3 linked regions of the Homo sapiens genome follow. The protein of the gene in region 2 interacts with the protein of the main gene of each other region in a biochemical or structural test. Each region holds a gene or a part of one and is shown on either strand. Other genes may lie near its edges.

What was found.
Region 1: the proteins of NTRK2 (region 2) and USP8 form a complex in vitro, tested with the Homo sapiens proteins (one study listed by BioGRID).
Region 3: the proteins of NTRK2 (region 2) and SORT1 form a complex in vitro, tested with the Homo sapiens proteins (one study listed by BioGRID and IntAct).

The regions. Positions count from the first base shown.
Region 1 is NC_000015.10:50,511,342-50,515,013, forward strand, and holds the end of USP8 (ubiquitin carboxyl-terminal hydrolase 8), read left to right. Parts: 3' UTR 1-3,080; downstream 3,081-3,672. UniProt on the Homo sapiens protein: Hydrolase that can remove conjugated ubiquitin from proteins and therefore plays an important regulatory role at the level of protein turnover by preventing degradation. Converts both 'Lys-48' an 'Lys-63'-linked ubiquitin chains.
Region 2 is NC_000009.12:84,672,646-84,676,300, forward strand, and holds part of NTRK2 (BDNF/NT-3 growth factors receptor isoform a precursor), read left to right. Parts: intron 1-3,655. UniProt on the Homo sapiens protein: Receptor tyrosine kinase involved in the development and the maturation of the central and the peripheral nervous systems through regulation of neuron survival, proliferation, migration, differentiation, and synapse formation and plasticity.
Region 3 is NC_000001.11:109,310,789-109,314,443, forward strand, and holds part of SORT1 (sortilin isoform 1 preproprotein), read right to left. Parts: intron 3,597-3,655; coding exon 3,473-3,596; intron 3,270-3,472; coding exon 3,255-3,269; 3' UTR 1-3,254.

The sequences.
Region 1 (3,672 bases), on a different chromosome or scaffold from region 2:
CTGCCACTTTGGAAAACAATTTGGCAGTTCCTCAAAAAATTAACCAGAGTTACCATATGACCCAGAAATTTCACACTTAGGTATATACCCAACAGAAATGAAAACATGTTTACAGAAAATCCTGTACATAAATGTTCATAGCAGCATTACTGATGACAGCCAAAAGTGGAAACAAGCCAAATGTCCATCACTGGATGGATTAAGGAAATGTGGTATATCCTATACAATGGAATATTATTTGGCAATAAAAAGGAATGAAGTACAGATACATGCTATGACATGAATGAAACTTGAAAACATTATGCTGAATAAAAGAAAATAAAAACAGAAGGTCATATATTCTATGATTCTGTTTATTAAAATACCCAGAATAGGCCAGGCACTGTGGCTCACGCCTGTAATCCCAGCACCTGGGGGAGCCGAGGCAGGTGGATCACTTGACGTCTGGAGTTTGAGACCAGCCTGGGCAATATAGCAAAACCCCATCTCAACCAAAATACACAAAAATTATTGGGGCATGGTGGTGCACACCTGTGGTCCCAGCTACTCGAGGGAGGGAGGAGGGAAGATCACTTGAGCCAGGGAGGTTGAGGCTGCAGTGAGCTGAGATTGCACCATTGCACTCCAGCCTGAGCAAGAGTGAGATATTGTCTCAAAAAATAAAATAAATAAAATTTTAAAAATACGCAGAATAGGCACATCTATAGAAATATATAAAGTAGAGGCCAGGAGAAGTGGTTCATGCCTGTAATCCGAGCACTTTGGGAGGCCAAGGTGGGTGCGCCACTTGAGGTCAGGAGTTCAAGACCAGCCTGGTCAACATGGTGAAACCCCACCTCTACTAAAAATACAAAAATACACCTGTAGTCCCAGCTACTCGGGAGGCTGAGTTACGAGAATCCCTTGAACCTGGGAGGCGGAAGTTGCAGTGAGCTGAAATCATGCCACTGCACTCCAGCCTGGGCAACAGAGCAAGACTCTGTTAAAAAAAAAAAAAATAGCGAGAGATCGAGAGAGAGTGCACGTGAGAAGACTAGTAGTTGCTATGGACTGGGGGAGAAGGAACGGGTTACAGGGTTTCTTTTGGGGATAACGAAAATGTTCTAAAACTGGACTGTGGTGATAACTGCACAACTCTGTGAATGTACTAAAAACTACTGAACTGGCCAGGCACAGTGGCTCACACCTGTAATCCCAGCACTTTGGGAGGCCCTGAGATGGGCAGATCACTTGAGGTCAGGAGTTCCAGACCAGTCTGGCCAACATGGTGAAACCACATCTCTACTAAAAATATTTTTAAAAATTAGCCAGGCATGGTGGTGCACCTGTAATCCCAGCTACTTGGGAGGCTGGGGCATGAGAATCATTTGAAACCAGGGGGTGGAGGTTGCAGTGAGCCGAGATCACACCACCGCACTCCAGCCTGGGCGACAGAGCCAGACTCTGTCTCAAAAACAAACAAAACAAAAACAACAAAAAACACAACTGAACACATTTAAGGTGAATTCTGTGGTATGTGAACTATCTCTAAGAACTTCTTTTTATTTAAGTTGGGAAACAAAAAGATCATGTACAACAAACCAAAAACAAAAAAGTTATTTCTAACCCATGTAACATATAACAAGGATCTAGAACATGTAAATGACTCTTTCCAATCAATAAGAAGAAAAATAACCCAGTTTGTAAAAAATGTGCAAAAGACAAATATTTCATACAATAGGAAAAACTAAAATGAGATAATTTTGTATCCATTAGATGGCAAAAATTAAGAAGTCTGATGATCCTGGTAGGGGTATGTATTGGTATAATCACTTGTAGAAAGTTAAATATGCACATACTTTATGATCTAAGTGACCTCACTCCTAAGTATATACATGAGAGAAACTCTTATGCACATATATATGCAGGAATGTCTGCATAATGTTGTTCATGCCAGCAAAAATTTGGAAACAATGAAATATCAATAGGAAAATGGATAATTTATGATATATTCACACAATATACATCATAGGCTAGTGAAATTATAACCACATGCAACAATATGGATATATCTTTAAAATATTTAATGAAAAAGTATGCTTGGCGCGGTAGCTCACACCTGTAATCCCAGCACTTTGGGAGGATGAGGGAGGTGGATCACCTGAGGTCATGAGTTCGAGACAAGAGCGAAACTGTCTAAAAAAAAAAAAAAAAAAAAGAGTGAAGAATCAAGCCACAGAAGGTAATTTAAAAATGTACACTCAAGATTTAAAAAGAACTACAATTCCATAAGAAAAAGGCAGGCCACAGAATAGGAAAAAGAATAAAAGACTTGTTTAGGCATTTCACAAAAGAAAGTATACAAATTTAAGTAGTTATTTAAACCACAATGCCATTCTACTATATGGGCAACCAGAAGGGCCAAAACAAAACGAACAAAAGACTACCAAGTGTTAACAAGGATTTAAGGCAACTGAAACTTCCAGTCATTGCTGGTGGGGGTATGAATTGGTACAGTCGCTTTGGAAAGCTACTGAGCAGTATGTACTAAAGCCAGACATATGCGTATTTCTGAACCAGGAGTTTCACTCCTAGGTATGTACTCAAAAGAACTGTGTACACTATGTTCACCAAAAAACAAGAATGTTTATAGCAACCCTCTTTGCATTAGTCAAAAGCTAGTAATTACCCAAAAGTTCCTGAATGGTAGAATGAATTACTAAATTGTAGTATTTTCATACAATGGAATACTATACAGCAATGAGAATGAATAAATTACAATATAAACAACAATATGGATGAACATTACATAATTTTGAATGAAAGGAGCCAGACACAAAAAAAGGATATACTGTACAATTCCATTTATACGAAGCATAAAATCAGGCAAAAATCTATAAATCTGTCCTGCCAGAAGTCAGTGGTTTTCCAGACTCGAAGGCAGGTACAAGCACAGTTAGGGTGCTGGTAACATTCTGTTTAAACTCTGTTCTGCTGGTTACATGGGTATGTTCACTTGAAAATCCATCAAGTTTTATCCTCATGGTTTGTGTACTTTTCTGTATATATGTTTCACTTCAATAAAGTTTATTTTTGGTCAAGGGCAGTGTCTCATACCTGTATTCCCAGCACTTTGAGAGGCCGAGGCAGCCCGACTGCTTAAGCCCAGGAGTTCCACAGCAGCCTGAGGAACATGGAGAAACCCTTCTCTACAATTTTTTTTCTTTTTGAGATGGGAGTCTCGCTGTGTCACCAGGCTGGAGTGCAGCGGCGCGATCTCGGCTCACTGCAACCTCCGCCTCCTGGGTTCAAGTGATTCTTCCTCAGCCTCCCAAGTAGCTGGGATTACAGGCGCATGCCACCACACCCAGCTAATTTTTTTTATTTTTAGTAGAGATGGGGTTTCACCATGTTGGCCAGGATGGTCTCCATCTCCTGACTTCGTGATCTGCTTGCCTCAGCCTCCCAAAGTGCTGGGATTACAGGCGTGAGCCACCACCCCTGGCCTACAAATTTTTTTAAAAAATTAGCTGGGCATGATGGCACTTGCCTGTCGTCCCAACCACTCAGGAGGCTGAGATGCGAGAATCACTTGAGCTCAGGTGGTGGAGGTTGCAATGAGCCGAGATTGTGCACCACTACTTCAGCCTGGGAAAAAGAGAGAGACACAGTCTAAAAAAAAAAAAAAAAAAA
Region 2 (3,655 bases):
AAGAAAGAAAGAAGATAGGGCTGATCATTTTCACTTTGTTTTTCTGTTTGATAATTTTAAGGCCATGATCTGAGAAAAAGGAAATAAAACTATCTTTAAATCTAAAAAATTATTATTTCAGACCTTCCTGATCTTAGCTGCCTGATGTATATGAAATCAATTGATTTCAGCAGAGCTTTCTTATATCTGTCCTCACAATTGTTGTTGCTTCTTTTATATCTGATGGCAGGTTCCTATTTTCAGCTTTTTTAAAGTAGATTTTAAAAATATTTACAAAAGCATGTGTCATAGTTATTCATTCAATCGTGGCACTTCTAATTTCTACTCTAACTTTTTTCCCTTTTGATTTGAAAACCTCTTGGGGTTGTGGGATTGGAGAGGTATATAGGGCTAAGTGTTGAGAACAGGGAATTAGGTTAGTAATATTAGTCTGGCTGGGTAGATGTGAGTCCTGAGACAAAGTATGTTTCTCTGCTCTATCTCAGCTTTGTGTGAGCCCAGCCAGTTTGTGCCCCAGTGCCTTTGTCTGTAACTCGTATGACAATACTTCTTTGGAAAGTACTCCATATAATTATTTTGAATTCTGCTTTTTTGACCTAAAAATGACATCAGTGGATGCGCTTGTTTCACTCGCATCCTTATATGACACCATCTATGTTCTTTTTCTTACATATTAATATTTGCTTGCACAGCTTTTAAATTCTTGTCCAGTGGATACCAGCTACAGTTGGAACCAAATTATACATATTTTAAAACTTTGTTGTTAGGCCCAGTGGTATTCCTAAAATAACCTGTTGTAAAGTTCTGGTTTAGTGGTATGTAGCTGAAGTTACGTGCGTCTATTTTTTAAAAATAGAAATAATGTGGTGAATAAACTGTGATTAGCAACACACAACTTGCTGAAACAACGGTTTACCATATCATTCAAAAATGGTGTATCTTTTAGCATCTATATATTAAACCATCATGCCCTTAGGGTTCTAAGAACACAAATAGTGGGACATTAAAAAAAATGTGTAGATTAACCAAGAGGTAGGATCTTTTTGTTTTGTTTTGTTTTTACATGCATGCTTTCAGCTAAGCTGACATTTTGTCTTCAGAGTCATTGAACCTATTTTATTAAAAATCTTCCCATCACAGTACCTGTTTTATATTTTTTGCCCACTAATGTGACATAACTAGATCAATATCTATCTATAGGTATGTATCACGCCTGCTCAACATCACACTGCTAAGTGGCAGCTCCTGTTATTTGGAAATGGTTATACCACAGCAGTGTTAAAATGAATTTAAACGCAGTACCAATGTCACATGCAATGGAATTCAAGAGTGAAGCCTGTTGTTGGAATTATGTAACTGGCCGTTTAAATCCCAGTTGTATTAAGTGCCAAAGTGCATTGCAAAGGACAAGTTCTGTTTCACCCAAGTGGTAAAAGGCACAGTCAAAAGAAGTCGTGCATTTTTTTAGCTGTGGTAAAAAAAAAATACATAACCTAAAATGTACCATCTTACAGTTCAGTAGTGTTCTGTGTATCCATGTTGCTGTGGAAGGGCATGCATTTTTATGTTGCACGTGCTTTATGAAGACTAATAGGGATCTTTTTTTTGAATTTCTCCAGTGGTATTCTCTGATTTGGGGGTAATATTTGAGAACAGCCTTATATTTTTCCTCTTAGCACAACCTAAATAGAATTTGGAGCTTCTCCTATGACAGACTCTATGTGCAATTTATTGTTGGCCTGGTTAAGCAGCTGTAATGTTGTGTCATTAATACATTGATTTTGGCCCTCTTACTTTAATAAGCTTTGCCATTGCAATTAATTGTACTTAAAAAAAAATCCTGGCATTCACAAAGATTCAGTGAAAGGCATCAATTTTTATTACTCTGATGTTTACTTCTCAGCCCCTCCATTGGGGGTTTTAGAACTTTGGACTGTGTCTTATATGCATTTAAGAGCCATGTATTTAAATTTGGAGCACGGTTACATAAGCCACACTAGACTTGTTAATGAATAAGGCAGTCTAATTTACATCATTCATTATTTAATACAACTTGCAAGCTGGAGTTGAGAACATGCTGTCTTCATAGTGTAGGTATTTACAGACATCAGCTTGGCACAACTGTGTGGAGTCTTTTTAGTTTCATACCTTCAATCTCTGCAATATGGACACTTTTGTTACCCTGGGTAAAACAGTGGAAAAGCCTTGTGACCCTTTTGACCCTACTTTCTTCCACCTCCCCTTCCATCACCCATTATTTATACAGGAAAATGGGTTTGATTTTTTTCTTCTCTGAAAAGTGATATTTCCTTATGGGAATTCAGAATGCTGGAGTTAAGAGAAGAGCCTGGGCTGTATGTTATTACAAGCAAGTATTGGGAAGTTGAAGCAATGTGGTCCCAGTTCCCTAGTGTGGAGTTTAGGTCTGTTTAAGGTCTCTCACTGTTTCTATCCCATAAACCTCTGTTTGTGTCTGCTTCAATATTCCCTTATAAAGGTGTTTTCTAAGCTGAAGAGTTGGCTGAACAGCTGAGAGTTGAGGTCTCTTTCTCCCTAGTAATATTCTGTATGATCTCTTTGACTATATCTAGGTCATAGGAGTATAAAAACTAGTGTTTTTGTTTAGCTGGGGAAGGGGAATTGAATTTCTTTTCTCTTCTCCTTTCTTTCTTTCTTTCCTTTTTTTTTTTTTTTTTTTTTTTTTTTGCCTTGAGTGTTAAGCAAGTGCATCCAGTTTTAACTCATTGGTCATCTTGCCTGCTAGGGAAAAAAACATTATCAAACCATTATTGAATACCATAAACTGGCCTTATCCCTCTGGCTAACTTTACCACTTCTCTAGAGAGTTTCTTGTAGGTTCAAAAGCTATAGCGTAGGATGTGACATGAAAGACCTGCCCCTTGGAACAATGCCAATTTTTAGTTGCTTCTGATGCCTGTAATCAATAGGAGGATTTGGGGGAGAGACTATTGAAGCATGGCAAAGTTTTTACTTGTTTGATGTGTGTTTGTGAGAGAGAGAGAGAAAGATAGAGGGAAGAAAAAAAACCCTGAATCTTGGATTATTTATGGTTGATCAATCATTTTTATAGTCTACTTGGTTGAGCTATTTTAAAACAAATCCCACCTCAAGCCTCAAATGGCAAAGATCTGAGCTCCACTGTGGCCTGATAATTTTAGCTCACATTTGATTGCTGATCAATCTCCATTAGAAAAGTAAAGGTCCCATATAACTGGGTGCCTTCTCACCACTTACTTTGCTCTCTGGGGTGTCCAAAGGACTGGGAAGTTATAAATATTGATCTGGGAGATGGATGAGTGAATGTGCTCAAAGTTACAAAAATCTTGCAAAGAAAAGCAATGTGTAGATACTAAGTTTATTCCTTATGTGTTTCAAAAAATAAAAATAAAAAAGCATATCATGGAAAGCTGAAGTCAGGAGACCTGGAACTTCATCCCAATGTCACCACTACCCAGTCACTACCCAGTTACCTGATCTTGAAGCAGCCTTTTAATGTTTCTGGGCCTCAGCTTGTCACATGTAAACTGAGGGCTTTGGATTTGATGCTCAGACAAGTTTCTCAAGGCTCTGAAGTTCCCTGAAGCCTCGGTCACGGAGATAAGGAAGTGTATACATCAGCTGTGAAGGAAGGGCA
Region 3 (3,655 bases), on a different chromosome or scaffold from region 2:
GGGTGGGTATGGATGGCCCTGGGCTCCCCTCCGTATCCTGGTATCGTGACGAAGGCCATGAGAACCAGCTCTGGTTTACAGACTCGATGCAGGAGCTGGAGGTGGCCAGCACATTACCAGCCTGTCAAGGATGAAAGACCACCTTGGGCATGGAGAGGCCCAGAGGCAAGCATCAGAGCAAGAGAGAGGAGGTGGGAAGTCCATTCAGAGGCAGACGTAGATTCTACGTTCCAGTTACGGCTGATCTATGGACTCTCCTGAGCCCGCCCCCAGAACTGCCGCAACTCTCCAAAGGCTTTTATTCTTTGAAATAGAGTTGCCATTGAATTAAAAGCCTACAGGAGAGACGGGCCTGGTCTGTGGTCTCACTAAAGCCCAATGCCCAATTAGGTCCAGAGAAGAAAGAAGAGTGAGTTCCCTACCTGGATTTAAGAACTCGGACCACTTTGGACTGGTTTGTCCAATCTCTCTTATAATGCTAAATTCCATTGCTGAAGCCTCCAGAAATGATCTCTTCTGCTACATCAAGCCTGGGAGTTTACACAATGATACACTATGTTTTACCTTCAAAGATAATGCTCCTAACATGAGTAGGACAAATTAGAAATCTATTTTTTTAGAAGCTGTAACAGATTTGGGCTTTCTTACTCTCTGGCTGAGGGCACACATTTGTGAGTGAGCAGGTTGATAAAGAAAGCTAACTAGCCAATAATGAGAATGAGCCAGGCTGGCTGTCAGTCTTCAAACCAACAGAGCTAGCCAGCCCGGGGTGGAAACCAGGATGGGGAGGGAGACCCATCAGTGGAGAGTCCACTCCTGCACTCTTGAGCAGTGACCCTCAATGAGGGGAGGGGCAGTTTCTGCAAACGTATTTAAAATTCCCATTACTTTTGTTTTCAGCCATGAAAGACAGGAAAATACAATTTTCTGTTCACCAAGGTGGCAAAAAGGTGCTAAATACTGCTAGGAAACAAATGCCACTGATCCCTGTCATAAAGAACAGCAAGTCATCTACAAGAAGGCAGCCTTGCTCAAAGTGGTTAGCACTCGCATGTGTAAAGATTTCCAAGAGTTCTGAAGACAGCCAGCCAGCACTGCTTATCACACACACGGGGACCCTGAACAACTGACTCCATCCCAAGAACATTGTGAGGTTCAAATGACATTATGTGAGTGAAGGTGCTCTGAAAATTTGCCAAGTTCCACAGAAATCCCAGATATCATTAAAAGCGAAGAGCCCTATCGTATATGGTTAGAGAAGAATATTGAGTTTCCTACGTCTTAAAATGAGTAAGAGGATTACCATGTATTGGTGCATCTGCCCACAGTGAGTACATGCTGGGAGAAAGGTGAGTGGTATAAACAGTTCTTTTCTGAGTACCAAATTCACTTTGGGCAGGAGGGAGGGTGGGGCAGAGGCTGACGTTTTCATTTGTGAGCTGGTGTATCTTCGGAATTATTTTTAATTTTAAAACCATGCAAAATGAATAAGCAAAAAGACTAGTGCACTCCAGCCCTAACCATATTATCTTCACAAAAACTGCCTCAACTTTATTTTCTAACTGAAGCTCCCTGACTCATTTCATTCTACTGCAGTTTTAACATCTCTAAAAGTCTCCATCCACTCTCTCCCCCACTTTCCACGCAGCTGTTAATCCATTCTGGGGAGGAGAGAACTTAGCCATCTGCTCACATTCTGACTAAAGTTAATTTGGCACTTCAAATAAAAAAAAAAAAAAACACACAAAACTGACTTTCTAGCCACAAAATAAACTAGTAGCAAATGGTATCTACCAAAGAATGTCCCAGTCATAATCATTGGGAGAAACTGTGACCCGCACAGTAGCTACATTAAGACCAAAAACTTTCCATACTATATTTCTATATAGCAAATATTCAAGCTGTATTAAAACTAATTATTGCAGCTTTCCATTACTATATGGCCACCCCAAAATCCACCCAACTACATTCTATAATTTATTTAATTTAGAGAGGTATCAAATGGAAAACTTCTTTTAATCCAAAATAAGAACTTAATGTATCACACAAAGCATCATCTAGACTGGAAGTGTGTTTTCAATTGGTTCCTCCAAAATTTTCGTGTCAACAAATTACTTGGCAAAGTCAGAAAAAAGGGGTGAGAAGGAAAGCCTGGTAATAAAATTCTAATTTTTTAAGTCTATAAATCTGAAAAAATCTCTAGTCCTGGTTCCATGTACAACAGCAACCTAAGAAGCAGCAGATAGGCAGCCATTGTCATGATTTAGCAACGAGCCACACGACAGTTAAGAAGGGAACATGGAAGACTGTGAGGTTCCGTCTTCGGGGGTTCACACTGTGTACCCGACAATCAACTCTAGGGAAGAGATCATTCAGCCTGGGCAGACTTCCAGCTAAGTTTGTACCCTGTCCTTGCGTAAGTCTACTGGCACACACACAAAGCACAGCTTGAAAAATCTCAGAAGAAGCAAGAGTTCTCTTTTAATAGGTGCTATATCTAGTCAATTCTCTGCTGCTCCCTTCTTCCTGCCCCAAGTTAAAAATATTGCCCTGTAAGTTTTCCTGATGTACTGTGTGGGAAGCACATGGTTAAGTTAGTTGCCAAAGGGCAATTAACAAGGGTATTGCCTAATTAAACAAGGGAAAAGAAAAATCACTGTGGTCTGTGGTCTCTGAAAAAAAAAAAAAGAGTAAGTGGGATCTGTGTGAGGAGCTGGTGTGCAGTGTTCTTGGAGTAGGACTGTCCCCAGATGGAGAAAAGCCGGCCAGGCTGTGCCAGCCTCTGCAGCCTGTTTTCATCTCTACAGCTGTTTCGTCTCGCCAGCAGAGCCCAGGGATGGTACCAAGTACACTGTGAGAGCTGATACTGGAGTTGGCAGATGCCCTGGGGCAGGCGCCATGCAGAACACACAGAAGTGGGGTTAGTGAAAAGGTCCCTTCGAATTCCATTTCGTTTCCCTTAAAAAACAAAAACAAAAAAGCCCATACTTTGCAAAGAGACAGGACGAGAAATAAGAAGTTAAAGAATTTAAAATGTCTCCCTTTTTCTCAGAGCCAATTGTAAAAAAGTGCTCAGGGTTCCCCACCCCCACCCTGCATTTCTTTAGTGTAGGTCCTTTTGGCTTTGATGGAAGCAGCAGAAACAGAGCTGGGTCCCTCGCAATGGGAAATTTATTTCCTGAAGTTGGAGCCACAGGGAGTGTAAGAGGTACTGTGGTTCCACCATCCATGCTGGGTCCAGCTCCTCTGAAGAGCTATTCCAAGAGGTCCTGAAAAAGACATGCACCATATTACCGACAGACCACAACACTCCTATTTCAAAAGCAATCACCTAGTTTCTGGGCTTGCCAAATCTTATGGTCATTAAGTCGCCTTGGCCCTGGCATATCTTGATCATGAATAGAAGACAGACTTTATTTTCTTGTATTTTTTGGGGGGGGGGGTACTACCATTCAAGAAGAAATAGCCTCACCTCATCTGAGTCATCATGATAACCACTTTTATTAGTGTGGGAGGCTGTGTCCAAAGCATCCACACCATCCACACCATTGGCCTCTGCATGCTGCTGCAGCACAGAGTATCGATGCACCAGGAACCTGTGAACAGAAACCTCCTTAACACTCGGTGGTACACAGCAGGGGTGCACTTCTTACAG